4 linked regions of the Homo sapiens genome follow. The protein of the gene in region 2 purifies or fractionates together with the protein of the main gene of each other region. This does not show direct contact. Each region holds a gene or a part of one and is shown on either strand. Other genes may lie near its edges.

Region 1 (5,101 bases), on a different chromosome or scaffold from region 2:
TCCAACCATCTACTTGCCATTCCTCAAATAAGATGCGGCCACTCTCTGCCTCTGTGGCTGTGTACACGCGGTGCCGCTCTAGCCTCCCTCCTCCCCGTCCTGCGCTGCCAACCACAGCTGCAGTGTAGAATCCCAAGGCGCCCCGTGCAAACCTTTAATACAGAATCCATCCCCCACCGTCAATGATCTCTTCGTCTACGCACCCGCCCCTCCTCACACACGGCAGCCTCTGAGGGCGTCGAGTCCCTCCTGTCTCATTACGCTTGCTACCAGGGGTGCACAGAGACTTAACGGGTGAATGAAGAGAAGCAGCATATGGGTGACCGTGTAAGAAAGGCAGGTATCGTGGAGTGGAACTGTGGGTGGGCAGAATCATGGAGAGCTGGAGGGCTGAGGAGTCAACTGGAGGCGCATTCAAGCCTTTAGATGGACCCTGCGGCCCAGTCGGTGAGCTGCTAAGGGCTGAGCAGGAGAAGCACCAGAGGGGGCCTGAGTGCAGCCTCGGCTGTGATGTTGTGATGTCATTCTGCGCCATCTCCAGCAGGGGCACGCGCTCAGCTTAGTGACCCGAGGCGTTCCGAGCCTCGGCGTCCCCATGTAACCATGTGGTCACAGTAAGATCCACCCAGAGGACTCTAAATGGGGGACAAACAGCACACAAACAAAAACAATCAGAGCGGCGCAGTGCAGCCCTCAGTGAGCGCCAAGAGAACCCTGTCAGCCCTAAACCGAGTATATTGATTATAGGGTGATTAGCTGTACAGGACCCAGTATTCGTTTATGGGGTTTTTTTCTTCCCCTTTATTTTCTGGCTGATGATACAGAATATCTTAAAAGCAATTAAGGATTAAATGTTCAGCCCATTAAGACAATCATGGAAGAGAATGTTCTGGCAGAGTCTAGATAGTAGGTTCCATCCACGCCACACACATCCTGGCGATTTTCAAAACGTTAAAATACTAAAAACCTTAATACTGAAACCAGCCTGTCCATAATGTCATCTGTCTGTGGCGATTCAGAAGACAGCACAGGTTTCTGCAATGAATGCCTCAAGGGTTATGATCCCAGACACCGATGTCACCAGAAGACCTTCCGCGGAACGGACGTCAGGCCAAGCAGTCCTGAGATCTGCTGGCTTCTACCTAAACGGGACTTGGTTCCTGAATACTCAGTTCATCAGTGTCACCACACATCCTCATCTTCAGTGTCCCGCTCCCTTCTAAATTCAGATAAAGATACAATTTTATTGTTAACAACATGAGTGAATGGCTTCTCTCCACCCCAGGTGATGCTTCCACGGGCCACTTCATGAAGTGCATAGACCTGGGGGCTCATGTCCCAGATTCAGGAGAGCCTCAGACACAGTCTGCCTCCGAATTTAGACGTCTGTTTACTCAACCAGCGCTAGTTAAGTCCCTGTTCTGTGGAGGTTCCAGAACTGCAGGGTTACAGCCCTGCCTTCTCATGGGCTTACAATCTAGCAGGGACAGAAAGGCCCGGGAGGGGCTGCAGCTCCCAAGTGACAGCTCTGGATCCGGGCAAGGATAAAGACACCCCCGGGTGGCATGGAGGAGCAGACTAAAGGTCAGGCGTCTGCCCATGTCCAAAGCCAAAGTCGTGGTACATAAGGCACTGCCCACCCCTCGCACCTTATGTCCTAGGGGCACGGCACAGTCACGCAGATGACTCAGCTGCGCCTTAGGAAATCCAAGCATGACTATGAGACCACATCACAGAGGAAAGGGGTGCCAGGGCCGCCAGCTGCCAGGGCAGAGGTAAGGACGGGGCAGCCCTGCACCTAAATCTGCCATCTATGCTCCCACAGCCCCACTGTGCGCCCACCCTACGCAGGGCAGCAGGGAGAAGGGGACTTCCAGGCCCACTAACTGGAAAGACAGTCCGTGGAACACAGCACAGTGGGCACTATGGGTCAGACAAAGACACTGAAAACAGCGAGAAAAGGCCTGGAGAACTGGCTGGTTAATTTTAGTAAAATTATACATTACTCACATTTCCAGCTCATTTTCCTGGTTCCCGGAGCTTCAAGACAGACATTGTTTTCCAGGCCCCGCTCGCCCGGATGAATCACCTCCCGGCCACTGCTTCCCAGGCGTCATGTGCTCCCGGGGACGGCAGAAAACCGCACGCATCCTGCCCGGGAGATGGAAGTCGCCTCCGCTCCTGGTCAGGACTGTGCCCGAGAGAGCCCACGGCATCCCCGCGAACACCCAAAGGACTCTGAGTGGCTCCGTGCCAGGCCTATCAGAGCCGCTGAGGCTGCACGGCACCCGGCCCCGCCCCGGGCCTCATCCCCATCCTAGGCGGGCACTTCCACTGCCAGCTGCCCACGGAGAGAAAGATGGAAAGAGGAGGGAGGGAAAGAGAGGCCTACAACACCATCATCCAGGACAGAGCTTTCTGAGTACTGAAAGCCACACGCTCTCTAAGCTAAGAAACCAAGAATGTCCATAACATCTGGGGAAAAGTAAACCAGATTCCAAGCAGTGACATTGAAAGAATCCATCACGTGAAAGAAGTGCACTGCGTCTATTTGATACTCATTAAAATGAGTTTCCCACCCTCCAACAAACGTGCTTTGGGATGCTTAGCCCTTAGCCCCATCACCTGACGTTCTGAGCCTGCGCTGGGCTTCATTCACCGTGGACTGCCACAAGCTACACTGATCTGAGTCTGAGTTCCTCTGCCTGGGGAGGGGGTATGGGTACAAGACATTTTGAGGATACATTCTGGGGTCCCCAAAGGCCCCTGAGCACCATGGCATGGCAGGTGCTCCCACCCAGTGAAAGAGATGAGGCCCAGGGCAGCCTTGGGCCCTGGCCTCCCAAAAACCAACATCCTGAGGCGGCAAAGCAGCCCGTCCCCATGCCAGGCGTTGCCTGGCAGGAGTAGAATGAAGGCTATGCAGAGACATCCCCCAAGCACCAGAGTCCAGGTGGAGACAAGAGATTCAAAGGAGGAGGGGCCGGCACAGGGCCAGTGAGTGGGCCGGGACACAGCCCCATCTCCAGCCCTTTCGTCCTCTCTCTCCCACCGCAGCAGTTACAGGAGAATCCGACATCTGAGAACTGGCAGGACAGCCAGTCGTTCACACAGTCTTAACACATCATAATGAGACTGCTGGCTGGGCATGGTGACGTGCACCTGTGGTCCCAGCTACTTGGAGGCTGAAGTGGGAGGATCACCTGGGCCCAGGAGGTGGAGGCTACAGTGAGCCATGGTCACGCCACTGCACTTTAGCCTGGGTGACAGAGCAAGACCCTGTCTTTAAATAAATAAGATTGCTAGCACATCTTTAATCTTAAAAAGCTTCCTCAGAAAACAGACTTAATGCCACTGAAGGGTGCCCTGAAACCTGGTTAAAGTGGTCAGCTGTATGCTCTGCTAATTTACTACAGCTTTTTAAATAATAAAATTTTACCTGAATAATATAGACAGAACTTCCTCCCAACCTTTACCTGCTGCCCCCTGGGGTTTCTGATGTGCACAGGGCAGGTCAGCACCATCCCAGTTTTACAGAAGAGATGACCAAGGTGGAGAAGATGAAGGCTTTGCCTAGACATGCTGCCCACCACAGACACCGGCCCTGTGGCATCAGCCGCTCAGGGTCGTCACACCAGGCCCACCAAGAGACTCTCCATCACCTCGCAGCTCCATCCCAAGCTGCCAGGAGGCCTTTCCGACCCACCAGCACCATTTCCACCCACCTTCCTGCCCCAACTGCAGAGACACAGGAAAGGAGCAGTGCGGAGATGCCGGCCACCAAGGTCTGTCCCCGGACAGTCCTGCCACGCTGGCTTTCTCAGTCAGTAAGCTTCTGAAGCACAGCTCCCAGGGGACCCCGGTCCCTGGCTGGACCGTGCACTCCCGGGAAGGCTGACACTGCAGCCCCCACGCCCTAATCTCCTTGGCTCCGCACGGGTGACCACATACCAGATGTTCTAATAACTGTCCATAGAGTAAATAAATCATTAAGGTACACATAGTATGTGTGAGTCCAGTTAACAGCGTTTGTGGCAAATGACAAGGGAGTTAAGGAGATTTCAGAGAAAATGACTGGTGGCAAAGACTTTTTTCTGAAAAAGCAAAATTTAAGGAACATTTAAATGTTGGGCATAAACAGTGGTGAGATGTCTTCTCCCTTTTAGTCCCTTCCTCCAACTTCTGTTGTCCTCCTCACCTCCTCCCTGCTTCTAAATGTCCCCGAGCTCATCCAAAGCACCCCACAACACACACACAGGAGTGAACTCATCACCGTGGCTTCTCTCCCCTTGTGAGTGGGAGAATTCACTGCTTCCCAGTGAGCAACAAGGTGCCTGGGTGTGTCCCCAAGACATCCTGGTCAAGCTGCGTCACTCCTCTGTGCCAATTTTAGACGGGAAGTGAGGGAAGTGGTTGCAAAGGAAGGCCTGGGTGAAGACGATGTTTGCCGAGGTGGCGGAGGCTGAGGCAGAGACACCCTCCTAAGTACAAATGGCAAGAAGTGTGTCGTGGGCAGGAAAAAGCTGGCAAAATACCGGCATTCGGACTGTCCCAAAGACAGAGATGACCCTGAGGCTCCTGGCTTCAATAGCGGGGTCCATCCTCGCTGGCAGGGACACAGGGCAGAGACTGTCTCTGCCTTCTATGCGTCAGCAACTACTGCCATAGCTTAACATTGCTTAATAATTGAAAAAAAGCCACCAAAAAGTCAAGGGAATGAAACCCGAGTGCGAATGCCGCCACAGCCAGCATCACTGCCACAACCATCCACCCACGTAATGTTTCCCCCATTAACTCTCCATAAAGGGGCCAGGTGCAGTGACTCACGCCTGTAATCCCAGCACTTTGGGAGGCCAACGTAGGTGGACTGCTTAGGCCCAGGAGTTCGAGACCAGCCTGGGCAACATGGCAAAACCCCGTCTCTACAAAAAATACAAAAATTAGCTGGGCATGGTAGCGCCTGTAATCCCAGCTACTCAGGAGGATGGCTGGAGCCCAGTAAGTTAAGGCTACAGTGAGCCATGACAGAGCCACTGCACTCCAGCCTGGGCAACAGGGTAAGACCCTGTCTCAGGAAATAAAAATAAAATACTCCCCACAA
Region 2 (5,101 bases):
TGTGTGATTCCCATGAACTGGGGGTTGCAGGGGGGTGAGGTATTCAGAACCCTGCCAGAATTTCTTGGAAAAAGAGGGAGAAGGCCTTTTCTAGTGCTACCATAACCATCTTATACAAAGATTGAAAGTGCTCTGCATGCTTCTTGCCCCTTACCCACTTTGTGGCTCATCATGAAGTTGAGAAGGTGTAGGTCGAAGAAGTTCTGGGAAGGGTAGGAGCACTGAGCTGGATGTTGGGAGGCTGGAACGCTGGTTCTAGCTCTGTCAGCAGTTAGCTGTGAGGCCTTGAGCCAGTCATTTGATCTTTGTTTCTTGGTTTCCTGGTCTAGAGGAGGGAATTGAGTTGGATAGTCCCTGAGGTATATTCTTCTAGTTCTTAATATTTAATGATAATTGTGCTTTGACAGAGAACTTAAGAATTTTATCTGTCCAAACAAGTGAAAGGTGGATAGATCTTGGACTCTGCGGAGACCAAGATACGACAAGAACAGAGCAGCTGTAGTATTGAGCTGCTTCGTAGCTCCTGTGATCCTGACAGAAAGGTGGAGGTGTTGATGCTCACACAGAGAGTTTGAGCTCACCTGTCAGACCTAGTTTCTGGTCTTGGCTTTGCGGCTACTGAGTTATATGGCCTATGGTAAGTTATCTTTGTTTTTTTATTCTGTAAAATGAATGAATAGGATTACCTTAAGGTAACCTTGGCTAGGCACGGTGGCTCACACCTATAGTCCCAGCACTTTGGGAGGCTGAGGTGGGAGGATCACTTGAGGCCAGGAGTTTGAGACCAGACTGGGCAATGTGGTGAGATCCTGTCTCTTCAGAAAATTATTAAAAAAAAAAAATCAGGTTGGTGTGATGGCACATACCTGTAGTCCTAGGTCCTTGGGAGATTGAGGCAGGAGAATTGCTTGAGCTTAGGAGTTTGAGGCTGCCATAAGCTAAGATTGTGCCACTGCACTCCAGCCTGAGTGACACAGCAAGACCCTGTCTCTAAAAAAATGATAACCTTCCACCTCTGTAGTCATGTGTCTGAACCAGTCATTGGGATCAGTTACTTACCATCTTAGAAACTTACGTATGAAGTAATGGGAAATTCGGTGAGAATCTGACTTGTATCCCTGTCCACAAGAAAGAGATGTTATAAAATTTATAATGGCTTTATTGAGATATAATTCACTTATATACAATTCATCTGTTAAAATGTACAATTCAAGTTATTAGTATAGTCACAGAGTTGTACAACTATCATCACAATCATTTTAGAACATTTTCTTCATCCCCGAAAGAAATCCTGTTACCTGTAATCAGTCACTCCTCACCTCAGCCCTTGGCAACCACCAACACTGCATGTCTACTTCCTGTCTTTACCGATTTGCCTATTCTGGACATTTTATGTGAATAGAATCATATACTATGTGGTCTTTTGTATTAGGCTTTTTCCCTTAGCATGTTTTCAAGGTTCACCTATGTCATAGGTGTGATTTCTTTCTTTTCTTTCTTTTTTTTTTTTTAAATGAGACGGAGTCTTGCTCTGTTGCCAGGCTGGAGTGCAGTGGCACGATCTTGGCTCACTGCAGCCTCCACCTCCCGGGTTCAAGTGATTCTCCTGCCTCAGCCTCCTGAGTAGCTGGGACTACAGGTGTGCACCACCACACCCAGCTAATTTTTGTATTTTCAGTAGAGATGGGGTTTCACCATGTTGGCCAGGATGGTCTCTATCTCTTGACCTCATGATCTGCCCGTCTCAGCCTCCCAAAGTGCTGGGATTACAGGCGTGAGCTACCGCGCCTGGCGTGATTTCCCTTTATTGGCAAAGAACATTCCATTATATGGATAGACACTTTTATTTATCCATTTATCAGTTGGGCATTTGAGTTGTTCCTACAGTTTGGCTGTTACAAATAATGCAGCTGTGAATATTTGTGTACAACTTTTTATAAGGATATATATTTTCAATTTTCTTGATTGTGTACCTAGGAATGGTTTTCCAAAGCCATTACACCATTTTACATTCTCATCAGGAATGTTTGAGGGTTCTAATTTTTTCTATACCCTCACCCGCACTTGTTACTGTCAATCTTTTTTATTATAACCTTCCTAGTGGGTGTGAAGTGGTATCACATTGTGGTTTCGATTTGTGTTTCCCTAATGACTAATGATGAGCATCTTTTCATGTACTTCTTGGTCATTTGTGTACTTTTGCTGGAGAAATGTCTATTCAGATCCTTAGCCCATTTAAAATTGGGTTATATGTCTTTTTATTGTTGAGTTATAATAGTTCTTTATATATTCTGGATACTAGACTCAACAGATTTACAGATGTTTTCTCCCATTCTGTGGGTTGTCATCCATTTTCTTGATGGTATCCTTTGAAACACAAACATTTTAAATTCTGATGAAGTCCAGTGTATCTCTTTTTTCTTTTGTTGCTGTGCTTTTTGATTTGTGTCTAAAGAAGTCATTGCCTAATCCAAGGTCAGGCAGACTTATGGTTGCGCTATAAGAGTTTTACAGTTTAGCGCCTACGTTCATACCTGTGATCCATTTGGGTTAATTTTTTTTTATTTTCTTTCTTTCTTTTCTTTCCTTCCTTTCCTTCCTTTTCGTTCTTTTTCTTTTTTCTCTCTCTCCTTCCTTCCTTCCTTCCTTCCTTCCTTCCTTCCTTCCTTCCTTCCTTCCTTCCTTCCCTCCTTCCTTCCTTCCTTCCTTCCTCCTTTCCTTTCTTTCCTTTCTTTCCTTTCCTTCCTCTCCTTCCTCTCCTTCCTTCCTGTCTTCCTTTCTTTCTTTCCTTTTCTCTTGCTCTGTCGCCCAGGCTGGAGTGCAGTGGCCCGATCTCAGCTCACTGCAAGCTCCCCCTCCTGGGTTCACACCATTCTCCTGCCTCAGCCTTCCGAGTAGCTGGGACTACATGCGCCCGCCACCATGCCTGGCTAATTTTTTGTATTTTTAGTAGAGACAGGGTTTCACCGTGTTAGCCAGGATGGTCTGGATCTCCTGACCTCGTGATCTGCCCACCTCGGCCTCCCAAAGTGCTGGGATTACAGGCGTGAGCCACCGTGCCCGGCCCATTTGTGTTAATTTTTGAATATGATATGAAGTGGGTTAAACTTCATTTTTCTTTTTTTGAGACAGGGTCTCTCTGTGTCACCAAGGCTAGACTGCAGTGGGGCGATCACAGCTCACTGCTGCCTCAACCTCTCTGGCTTAAGCGATCCTCCTGCCTCAGCCTCCTAAGTAGCTGGGACCACAGGTGTGCACCACCAAACCTGGCTCATTTTTGTAAATTTTGTAGAGATGGGTTTTGCCATGTTGCCCAAGCTAGTCTCGAACCCTGGGACTCAGGCAGTCTGCCTGCCTTGGCCTCCCAAAGTGCTGGGATTACAGATGTGAGTCATTGTGCCTGGGCTTTTTTGTTTTTTTGTTTTTTTTTTTGAGGCAGGGTCTTGCTCTGTAACCCAAGCTGGAGTGCAGTGGTGCTATCATGGCTCACTGCAGCCTTGACCTCCAGGGCTCAAGTGATCCACCCCACCTCAGCCTCCAGAGTAGCTGAGACTACAGGTGCACACCACCATGCCTGACTAATTTTTGTATTTTTTGTAGAAACGGAGTTTTGCCATGTTGGAAACTTTATTCTTTTGCATGTGGATATTCACTTGTCCCAGCACCATTTGTGGAAGAGACTATTCCTTCCCCATTGAATGGTTTTGGCATCCTCAAAAATCAGTTGACAGTTGTGAGGGTTTATTTCTGGACTGTTAATTCTGTTTTACTCATTTGTAAGTCCATTCTTATGCTAGCACCACACTGTCTTGTATTTAGGTTTGAAATTGGGATGGAAGAGTTCTTTTCAAGATTTTGTTCTTTTTCAAGATTGTTTTGGCTATTCTGGGTCCCTTGCATTTCCATATGAATTTTAGAATCTGCTTGTCAGTTTCAACCTCCAAGCTAGCTAGAATTTTGGCAGGGAATGCATTGAGTCCATAGATCAATTTGGGAATTACTGCCATCTTACCAATAGTAAACCTTCCAATCCATGACCATGGAATAGCTTTTGTTTATTTAGGTCTTCTTCAGTTACTTTCAGCAGTCTTTTTTAGTTTTTGTGGTGTACATTTTGCACTTCTTTTGTTAAATTTATTTCTAACTATTTTTTGTTTTTGATATTGTAAATGGACTTTTCTTAATTTTATTTTTGAATTGCTCATTACAAGGATATAGAAGTCAAATTGATTTTTTAAATATTGATTTTTGTATCCTGCATTCTTGATGAACTCAGTTATTAGTTCTAATTTTGTTTGTGGATTCTTTAGGATTTTCTGTATTCAAGATTATGTCAATTGCAAATAGAGATAGTTTTACTTCTTCTTTTCTAAACTGGATGCCTTTTGTTTCATTTTCTTGCCTACTTACCCTAGATAGAACTTCTGGTACAATGTTGAATAGAAATGCCAAGAGTAGACATCCCTGTCTACTCTGCCAAGAGTAGACATTCCCTAGATTATAGGGGAAAGCATTCAGTCTTTCAGCATTAAGAATGATGTTAGCTGTAGGTTTTGTAATAACTTTTGTCAGGTTGAGGAATTTTTCTTCTAGTTTGCTGAGTACTTTTAACTTGAAGGGGCATTGGATTTTGTCGTGCTTTTTCTGCGTTTGTTGAGAAGACCATGTAGATTTTGTTCTTTATTCTATTGATATGGCCTGTTATAATAATTGATTTTTCATATATTGAGCCAACCTTGTATTCCTGGGATAAGACCCACTTGGCGATGATGATCCTTTTTATATTGTTCTAGATTCCGTTTGCTGGTATTTTGTTGAGGATATTTGTATTTATATTTTAGAAGACATATTGGGGTGTCTTACTTTTTTATGAAAGAATAATATGTTTACTCTCGTTAAGAACATCCCATTCTGTCCAGTAAAACTAAAGTCACAGCCATATGAAAGCAGGCCTAGAGTCATTGGTAAAGCTGCCTGGTTATCTGGTTCTTACCGTGTGGTAGACTGAGCTAATGTGTCCCTCTCTGTCTTTACCAACATGTAAAAATGCGGTTAAATTATAACTTAATTGAGTTCATAGCTGAGTAAAATTCAAAACCTT
Region 3 (5,101 bases), on a different chromosome or scaffold from region 2:
TAAATTTAACAAAAGACGTGCAAAACTTTTACTCTGAAAACTACAAATCATTGTTCAAAGACATTTTAAAAGACCTAAGTAAATGGAAAGACATTTCATGTTCATGGATCAGAATACTTAATATTGTTCAGATGTCAATACTCCCCAAAATGATCTACAGATTCAATGCAATCTCTATCAAAATCTCAGCTGGCTTCTTTGCATAAATTGACAAACTAGTCCTAAAATTTATGGGACTTCCAGCCAAAACAATTTTGAAAAAGAACAAAGTTGGAGGATTCATACTTCCTGATTTCAGAAATTACTACAAAGCTAGTAACTTCTAGTAACAGTAATTAAGAGAGTGTCAGCTGGGTGTGGTGGCTGATACCTGAAATCCCAGCACTTTGGGGGGTCGAGGTGGGTGGATCACTTGAGGTCAGGAGTTTGAGACCAGCCTGGCCAAAATGGGAAAACCCCATCTCTACTAAAAATACAAAAATTATCCAGGTATGGTGGAGCGTGCTTGTAATCCCAGCTATTTGGGAGGCTGAAGCAAGAGAATTGCTTGAACCCGGGAGGTGGAGGTTGCAGTCAGACAAGATCGTGCCATTCCCTGGGCAGCAGAGTAAGACTCTGTCTCAAAAATAAATAAATAAATAAAAGACAGTATAGTAGTCGCATAAGAATAGACACAGATGAAGGAACAGAATTGAGAGTCTAGAAATCAACCCATACATCTATGGTCAATTTATTTTTTATAAAGATGCTGTGGTATAATAAAAATTAAATATTTGGTCTTTATTCCCAGTTCCTGACACAGAATTCATAAAACATTTGAGATTTACTATTTTTTGAATGTTAATGAGATGACTCTTGTGGAGAGGAGAGCAGTCCTAGGTAGCTTCAGGATGGGGGCTGGTAGCCAGAAAAACCAACCATGTGATTAGAGAGTTAGAACTTTCAGTCTACTCATCTGACAAAGGGCTAATATCCAGAATCTACAAAGAACTCAAACAAATTTGCAAGAAAAAAACAAACAACCCCATCAAAAAGTGGGCGAAGGATGTGAACAGACACTTCTCAAAAGAAGACATTTATGCAGCAAAAAGACACATGAAAAAATGCTCATCATCACTGGCCATCAGAGAAATGCAAATCAAAACCACAATGAGATACCATCTCACACCAGTTAGAATGGCAATCATTAAAAAGTCAGGAAACAACAGGTGCTGGAGAGGATGTGGAGAAATAGGAACACTTTTACACTGTTGGTGGGACTATAAACTAGTTCAACCATTGTGGAAGTCAGTGTGGTGATTCCTCAGGGATCTAGAACTAGAAATACCATTTGACCCAGCCATCCCATTACTGGGTATATACCCAAAGGACTATAAATCATGCTGCTATAAAGATACATGCACACGTATGTTTATTGTGGCACTATTCACAATAGCAAAGACTTGGAACCAACCCAAATGTGCAACAATGATAGACTGGATTAAGAAAATGTGGCACATATACACCATGGAATACTATGCAGCCATAAAAATGATGAGTTCATGTCCTTTGTAGGGACATGGATGAAATTGGAAATCATCATTCTCAGTAAACTATCGCAACGACAAAAAACCAAACACCACATATTCTCACTCGTAGGTCGGAATTGAACAATGAGAACACATGGACACAGGAAGGGGAACATCACACTCTGGGGACTGTTGTGGGGTCAGGGGAGTGGGGAGGGATAACATTAGGAGATACACCTAATGCTAAATGACGAGTTAATGGGTGCAGCACACCAGCAAGGCACATGTATACATATGTAACTAACCTGCACATTGTGCACATGTACCCTAAAACTTAAAGTATAATAATAATAATAAATAATAATAATAATAAAGAACTTTCAGTCTCACTCCCTACTCCAACCTCCAGGGAGTGGAGAAGAGATATTGAGTGCAGTCACCAATAATGTAATCAATCATGCCTATGCAATGAAACCTCCATAAAGACCTAGGCATGGGGTTCAGAGAGCTTCTGGGTTGGTGAACACAGTGATGGGCTAGGAAGGCACCTGGAAAGGGCCTGGTGGTGCTGCCCCACCCACCCCTAACCCCTCACATTTTGTCCTATGTATCTCTTCCATTTGGCTACTCCTGAGCTGAATCCTTTATAATAAAAGAGTAAACATAAGTATTTTCCTGAGTTTTGTGATTGGTTCTAGCAAATTATCAAATCTGAGGAGAGGGTTGTGGGAACACCCAGTTGGTCAGAAGTATGGGTGTCTCCCGAGACTTGAGACTGTTGTCCGAAGTGAGAGCAGTCTTGTGGAACGGATCCCTTAACCTGTGGGGTCTATGTTAATTCCAGGAGTTGGTGTCAGAATTGAATGGAATTGTTGGACACCCAGTTAGTACTAGAGAATTGGAGAATTGGTTGTTGGTGCTGGAAAATACCACACATTTGGTGTAAGAAAAGGAATCAGAAAAAAGACATTACAGATGCCAGCATAATTCAATGAGGACAGAATAGTCTTTTCAATGAATAGTTCTGGGACAACTGGCTATACATATGAAAAGACTAAAGTTGGACACCTACCTCACGTCATATGCAAGAATTAACTCATGACTGATTACAGAACTAAATGCAAAAGCTAAAACTATAAAACTCTTAGAAGAAAACATAGGTTTAAATCTTCACGAACTTGGATTAGACAATGGTTACTTGTATATGACACCAAAAGTACATGTGAACCAAGGAAAAATACATATTCTGGACTTCATCAAAATTAAAAAGTTTTGTATTTCAATGGACACCATCAAGAAAGTAAAAAAACAACCCACAGAATGGGAGAAAAGTTCTGCAAATCATGTACCTGATAAGGTTCTTATATCTAGAATATATAAAGAACTTCCATAGCTAAACAATAAAAAGACAAATTACCCAATTATGAAAATGGCAAAGGATATGAATAGACATTTCTCCAAAGAAGATACATGAGTGATGTGCAGGAGAAGCACTCCTACTTCCACATGCCTGCATATGGACTCTATAGGTGACTATAAAACCCTCAATTACATTATAACTTCCCATCCCAAATCTCCATCTGACTTTCTCCCTCTGGATGTCCCACATACCTAAACTTAACACTTCAAGCCCAACCCATCAAAAATGGAACTCATTATTTTCTTGTCTCTCTCTCCATGTCTCCAACATATAGACGGTGGTCAAGTTAGAAAGGTTGCCATCATTTGCCATTTTTCTCTTTCCCTTCAATATCTTATGAAATTGATCACCAAATCTAGATGATTTTATCTCCCATCTCTCAGTCTTCACTGCTGCTACCTTGGTAGAGACCCCAGCTTCTCTATTGGATCAGCAGAGCTGTGCCTCAGGCAGCCCTCCAGCTCCAATCAGACCTCACTGCTTTGTTGTCAGCTGTATTCCAATGCCTAGCCCTAGGCCTGGCACAGAGCTAGCAGTTATTATACATTAGTTGAATAAATGGCCAAATAAAATGGGGAAGAAAAATAGAATATTAGAAGATGTGATATGATAGTTGAGTGGGCTTGACATCAATATTCACCAAATTAATGGAACAAACATCAGAAATGAAACATCAAAGAGGCAATGGAGTCATAAATAGAAAGCAACCTGAGGACTTATAAAGAAACAAATCATGTTGGACAAACATGAATTATGGTGAAAAATGCAGCAGACATGTTATACATTTGATATTTTGAATTATCTTTGTCACATCGTGTTATGAAAACATCCTTGTAAAACTGGGGCAAATTGACTATCTGAAGATACACAGCATAAAACCAGAAACAGTTAATAGAAATGGCAGGAAATATGCAAAGAGAAAGCTCCAGGAGGCCGGGTGCGGTGGTTCACACCTGTAATCCCAGCACTTTGGGAGGCTGAGGTGGGCAGATTGCCTGAGGTCAGGAGTTTGAGACCAGCCTGGGCAACATGGTAAAACCCTGTCTCTACTAAAAAAAAATTACAAAAAATTAGCCGGCGTGATGCCGGGTGCCTATAATCCCAGCTACTGAGGAGGCTGAGGCAGGAGAATCGCTTGAACCCAGGAGGCAGAAGTCGCAGTGAGTCAAGATCACGCCACTGTACTCTAGCCTGGGCAACGAGAGCAAAACTCCATCTGAAAAAATAAAAGAGAGAAAGCTCCAGGAAATCATTGCCCTTCTGTGTTCCAGGAAATAGTTGCCCTTCTTTAAAACATATACAAGTGATTGAACCAGTATTTTTTATTCATTGTATGAATCCTTGGTCATGAAAGGGAGAAAACTCTCTGGGTCTCTCTCTGTTTCTCTTTCTCTCTCTCTCAGCCTCCCACATTTCCCTTTTGCATCCTGAGAATATGGAACTAGATTTAGCTAAAATAAGTGATTCTACAATAAATGTTGAATTACATGAAGATACTTACCCAAAGCCTATAGCCACCCAGTAGTTTCTGACCCCCTGATGGGGCCCCACCATAGGCAGAATGTCAGGAGAATACGTGATAGGACCATTGACAACATTGATGATGTCAGCCTTTTTCAAGACAGGAACCATTTCCATGGCAGCTTTGATGTGTTCCATGATTCGATCTAGATCAGACTCAAAGAGTTCCTTTCCAAAACCTAAAAAGATTTGCCCTTGTGGTCAGGATGCCGTAGCTGAGCTGACAAGTCCTGTAAAGTGATTTAAGCCTCTGACATGGCCTACATTTAAAGATGGCCTGTTAGGAAAGTACTGCCATTTTTTGTTAAAGTCTAAATTTCATATTCCCTATCAACAGATGAGTATCCATTTATATTACTGAAAACAATGGTATTGTTCTTGAAACAAAATCATAAAAGTTAACCTTTAATTAATATAAAATTTAAATGTATGAATAATATAGTTTCTGATATTTAATCCAATCAGTTTTTTTTAAAAAAAAACTATAATTTGGTTTGTCAAGAAGATCGTTATGCTTCAATTAACCATAAGAACCTGTTTCATCCCCTGAGATGAGGGCAAATGGGAGTTTACAAAGTCATGGCAGAATACTGGAAAAAGTGGAACACTCCTCCAAGATCTAAGATGATGGATTTTAGACCCCTTTTAACTC
Region 4 (5,101 bases), on a different chromosome or scaffold from region 2:
TTATTATTATTATTATTTTGAGACGGAGTCTCTGTCACCTAGGCTGGAGTACGGTGGCGCGATATCGGCTCACCGCAACTTCCGCCTCCCGGGTTCAAGCGATTCTCCTGCCTCAGCCTCCCTAGTAGCTGGGACTAGAGGCGCGTGCCACCACGCCCGGCTAATTTTTTTAGTAGAGACGGGGTTTGGGGTTTCACCATGTTAGCCAGGATGGTCTCGATCTCCTGACCTCGTGATCCGCCCGCCTCAGCCTCCCAAAGTGCTGGGATTACAGGCGTGAGCCACCACGCCCGGCCTATATTGGACTATTATTAAAACATGTTACACTGAACCTAGTCATGTAGATCCTGAAACTTTAAGTTGGATTTCATGACTGCAGTCCTAGTTCATCAAGGGAAGGAGATGGAAGAAAACGTTAGTTCGCCATTAGTCTTAGATAAAAAACAGGCCGGGCCTGGTGGCTTATGCCTGTAATCCCAGCACTTTGGGAGGCCGAGGCGGGTGGATCACAAGTCAGGAAATCGAGACCATCCTGGCTAACACGATGAAACCCCGTCTCTACTACAAATACAAAAAAATTAGCCGGGCGTGGTGGCACGCGCCTGTAGTCCCAGCTACTCCGGAGGCAGAGGCAGGGGAATCGCTTGAACCCGGGAGGCGGAGCTTGCAGTGAGCCGAGATCGCGCTACTGCACTCCAGCCTGGTTGACAGAGTGAGACTGTCTCGAAAAAACTCAAAAAAACAAACAAACAAACAAAAACATTCAGGAGATTTGCAAATGCCAACTGAACTCTTGGCACTTTCCGTTTATTTTAGGTTTCAGTTCTTCAGTCTACAAAGGACTCTTCTAAAAGGATATGTGTTGCTAATACCCATCTTTACTGGCATCCTAAAGGTAGGTTTTATTTGGTATCACAAGTGACTTAAACACGCTTAAAGTTGTTTAAAGTGTTTTACACAAATGCATATCTTGAACGTCACCCAGAGACTGTAATTTGTGTAGTTTTTCTTTTTTAACTTAAAGACAACTTTAAAAAATACTTACATTAATGTTTTTTATATTCATAGGTGGGTATATTCGCCTCATTCAAATGGCAGTAGCCTTGGCTCACATAAGACATGTTTCATGTGATCTGTATCCTGGCATACCAGTTATATTTTGTGGGGACTTTAATAGTACACCATCAACAGGAATGTATCATTTTGTCATCAATGGCAGCATTCCAGAGGATCATGAAGACTGGGCTTCCAATGGGGAGGAGGAAAGATGCAATATGTCTCTTACACATTTCTTCAAGCTGAAAAGTGCTTGTGGTGAACCTGCTTACACAAATTATGTTGGTGGCTTTCATGGATGTCTAGATTACATTTTCATTGACTTAAATGCTTTAGAGGTTGAACAGGTGATTCCATTACCTAGTCATGAAGAAGTTACCACCCACCAGGCCTTACCTAGTGTTTCCCATCCCTCTGATCACATAGCACTTGTATGTGATTTAAAATGGAAATAGATGTGTGTTTAATGGAATTGAAGTCTGAAAAGGAAGTAGTTATTTTAGCAGAAAATTTAATATGAATCAAAGCTTATATGTAAACTTCAAGGAGGAATGGTAAAATGTTCAGCCCTCCTAGTTATGTTCCTGATGTCTTCGTTATGAAACTGTTGATGTTTGCATCATACATCTTCTCTTTCCTTGTTTTCCTCTACAATTGGAGGAGAAACAAATATATTTCTTACTAGCAAAATAGAAAATTGAATTATTTTTCTCCAAATTGAGACTCTCAGAAAAGGAAGATTGAATTAGCGTGTTTTTTGTTTGTTTGTTTTTGTTTTTGTTTTTGTTTTTTTGAGATGGAGTTTCACTCTTGTTGCCCAGGCTGGAGTGCAATGGCACAATCTCGGCTCACTGCAACCTCCGCCCCCTGGGTTTAAGCGATTCTCCTGCCTCAGCTTCCCGAGTAGCTGGGATTACAGGCGTGCGCCAACATGTCTGGCTAATTTTTGTATTTTTAGTAGAAATGGGGTTTCGCCACGTTGGCCAGGCTGGTCTTGAACTCCTGACCTCAGGTGATCCACCCACCTCGGCCTCCCAAAGTGTTGGGATTACAGGCGTGAGCCACCGCACCCGGCCCTTGTGTACATTTTTATAAGAGAATTTTTTTAGCTAGGAGTTCAGAATTTTTAAAGTACCATTTGAATGATCTTAATTTTTCTTTCATGACAACACATTCCAAAATGAATCATGCTTATGTACTAAGAGGGAAAATGTATTTAAGTTAAGGGTGAGAGACTTAAGTTATAGGTGACCTTAGAGACCTAAGGTGAGAGACTTGACACATGGAAGGAGTAACATTAGGGTCTACCTCTACCTCAATTTAGTTAGCGATTTACTACAATTTCAGAGCTTTAACAAAAGATAAAAATAAATCGTCACCAATTGTTATTGCTTCTCATCTTTCATTTTTCAATGAACAAGTAAGGTATTTTCATTCTTATTTTTAGGATTTTAGTTTTTAGTGTATGGTACAAATGAACACAGTTTATATTCTAATTCTTACTGCAGCTCATTTTAATTTTTAGGATGCAAGCACAATTTAGTATTCAAAGTGAGTAGCAACATATTCAACTTGATCCCATTGTCTTCAGTTACTCTTGCCCATGAAAAATGTTCATAAATGAACAGGGTATTTGACCATATGATATTAGAAAATACAGCACATTACTTTATGAGAAACTACCTACTGATATGGGCTTGAAATTTTGGATGAATCATTGAGCATTTCTACACTAGAAGTAATTTCAAAATTGTTGGTTTTTATAAACAGGAAAAAGGTTGAGTAGTGGGACTTTTAAGCATCTCTGAAATAAAAAACTTCTTTTTACAGACAAGCATTATAGTTTGAGTTACAGACAACAGTGTGTATATATGTAATATATATATAGTAAAATGAAATTTAAATATGAAGCCAAACTTTTTAAAATTAGAAACTACAAATGGTTATACTGATTAGTGTCTAGCCTAGAGTGGTAACCATGCTTTACTAATTCAGTTATGAAATACATTATTTATAATGCATTAGCTGTATTAGCTGTTGCTTTTTTGATGTTCAGGATAACTATGTTATCTCATTTCTGCATTTAATTAATAGCTCGAGTATTAAAAGCCCACTCCCTTCAAGAAAAGCTTTGATTTTCCCCAGTCATGAAAGCCCTTGTTTCAAATTCTTTAATCTCTGAACCTAGTATCATAAGAATTTCCTCTTTTGATAACATCTGTACTTTCATATTCTGCTCACTATCAAATGTATTGTTAACACTTAGTAAGTTTGAAAATGAAGGGGTTTTATCTGCATTTGACATTGAACCTTGAAGTACTTTAAGTACTCCAAGGGGAAAATTAAAGTGGAAGTTTCTTCGGATCTTGTTTAGAAAAAACTATAAATAAAAAATTGATGCTACCAAATTGTGCCTTCCTAAATAACATTTTTGAGAGCATTTTAACAGCAGTTTACAAATATGTAAATAATAGATTAAAACCAAATCTTGATTCTCTTGTGAATTTTTTTTTCATTTTAAAAATATGTTTTTGGGCTGTTTTCAAAGAAAGATGTTGATAGAACCCTTAGAGTGACTTGGGAGAAAACAAAGTGTCACATCAAAAAGTTGAGAAACATTTTGAAAGAAAAAATTCGAACATGCCCATGAAAAAAGCATACAGCTTCCACATTAACACTGGCTAGATTAAACTCTAGTCAGAAAAACTCAGCACTTAACAGACATTCCATGTCCTATATCCTTAATTTTGATGTTTTCTGACTAAACAATATACTCAGATTGTATACAGGCATTTCACATTATTAGGACATGGAATGTTATTGTGAAGTGCCATATACTGTGATCAAATCTCCAGTATACGGATACGTTAAAATGATTGGAGTCCAAAGGTAGGGAACACTAAGAAAATGTATAAATAGCATACACATTTCTTTGTACTCATGAGTTAGAATGCAGTGTTATTCAGAAATGTCTGTTTAAAGCACCTATGTGATTGCATTTTTCTATTACATTTGGATTTTTTAGTACATTTAATTTTAAGAAAACATGGGAAATCTAGCGACTTTCTATGGTAAACCACATTTTATAATGTCACAAGTTCTTGCTATAGGAATTAACATTCTAGAATTTTATATTGATTATAAAAGAGTATTTCAGAACATATTATTCTGTTAAAATGAACTCTTGCACAGTTGCCGCTACAGCAAATGTGTCTGCCAATAATCAAAATTCATGAGCAAACAATCGTTTCTGGCTGTAATGTATGTTCTTTTTGAAATTCTGTATGCTAAAATCAGTTGTTTCAAAATTTCAAGAATTCCACTGAGTAGTGATTTTTCTGAGTACTAAGCTATGATCTCATCAGAATGTGCTGGTTTCAGTCTGGAGATAGATTTCTGAGGAGCCTAATACAAGGGAGAGAATGTCCAAAGAACACTACTGTGGAAAGTTCTTACGATGGAAATTGACATCTTTTGTATCTCATTCTCCAGCCGTGAAATAAAGGCAGAGGTTCCCTGCAAACTAGTTTGGTTGGGATAAATCCAATATTTATATATAATGAAAAATAAAAGTTTGCATTATTAGTTTATCACAAGACCCATGTGACAACTCAGAAAATATTCTCAGCATAATTTTTTTAAGAGATAGAGTCTCACTGTTACCCAGGCTGGAGTGCAGTGGTGCAGTCATAACTTACTACAGCCTCAAACTGCGGGGCTCAAATGATCCTCCTGCCTCAGCGTCCCAAGTAGTTGAGATTACAAGCCCAACCTTCCATAACTGAAAACTAACTTTCTTTTTTTCTTTTTTTATTATTATACTTTAAGTTCTAGTGTACATGTGCCCAACGTGCAGATTTGTTACATAGGTATACATGTGCCATGTTGGTTTGCTGCACCCGTTAACTCGTCATTTACATTAGGTATTTCTCCTAATGCTATCCCTCCCCCAGCCCTGAAAATGAATTTTTTAAACACAAATAAAAAATATTTCAGTGTTTTGAGAATTTTAATAATTTGCTTAATATAGTACAGGAAGGCAACA

What was found. Proteins that work in one complex are often made in the same cells at the same time.
Region 1: the proteins of XPNPEP1 (region 2) and VGLL4 purify together in Homo sapiens (co-immunoprecipitation; one large-scale study listed by IntAct). This does not show direct contact.
Region 3: the proteins of XPNPEP1 (region 2) and DMGDH fractionate together in Homo sapiens (co-fractionation; one large-scale study listed by BioGRID). This does not show direct contact.
Region 4: the proteins of XPNPEP1 (region 2) and PDE12 fractionate together in Homo sapiens (co-fractionation; one large-scale study listed by BioGRID). This does not show direct contact.

The regions. Positions count from the first base shown.
Region 1 is NC_000003.12:11,566,595-11,571,695, forward strand, and holds part of VGLL4 (transcription cofactor vestigial-like protein 4), read right to left. Parts: intron 2,205-5,101; exon of another isoform or gene 2,013-2,204; coding exon of another isoform or gene 2,011-2,012; intron 1-2,010. UniProt on the Homo sapiens protein: May act as a specific coactivator for the mammalian TEFs.
Region 2 is NC_000010.11:109,916,445-109,921,545, reverse strand, and holds part of XPNPEP1 (xaa-Pro aminopeptidase 1), read left to right. Parts: intron 1-5,101. UniProt on the Homo sapiens protein: Metalloaminopeptidase that catalyzes the removal of a penultimate prolyl residue from the N-termini of peptides, such as Arg-Pro-Pro. Contributes to the degradation of bradykinin.
Region 3 is NC_000005.10:79,037,854-79,042,954, forward strand, and holds part of DMGDH (dimethylglycine dehydrogenase, mitochondrial precursor), read right to left. Parts: intron 4,629-5,101; coding exon 4,430-4,628; intron 1-4,429. UniProt on the Homo sapiens protein: Catalyzes the demethylation of N,N-dimethylglycine to sarcosine. Also has activity with sarcosine in vitro.
Region 4 is NC_000003.12:57,558,494-57,563,594, forward strand, and holds part of PDE12 (2',5'-phosphodiesterase 12 isoform 1 precursor), read left to right. Parts: intron 1-816; coding exon 817-895; coding exon of another isoform or gene 896-927; exon of another isoform or gene 928-1,068; coding exon 1,069-1,511; 3' UTR 1,512-5,101. UniProt on the Homo sapiens protein: Enzyme that cleaves 2',5'-phosphodiester bond linking adenosines of the 5'-triphosphorylated oligoadenylates, triphosphorylated oligoadenylates referred as 2-5A modulates the 2-5A system. Degrades triphosphorylated 2-5A to produce AMP and ATP.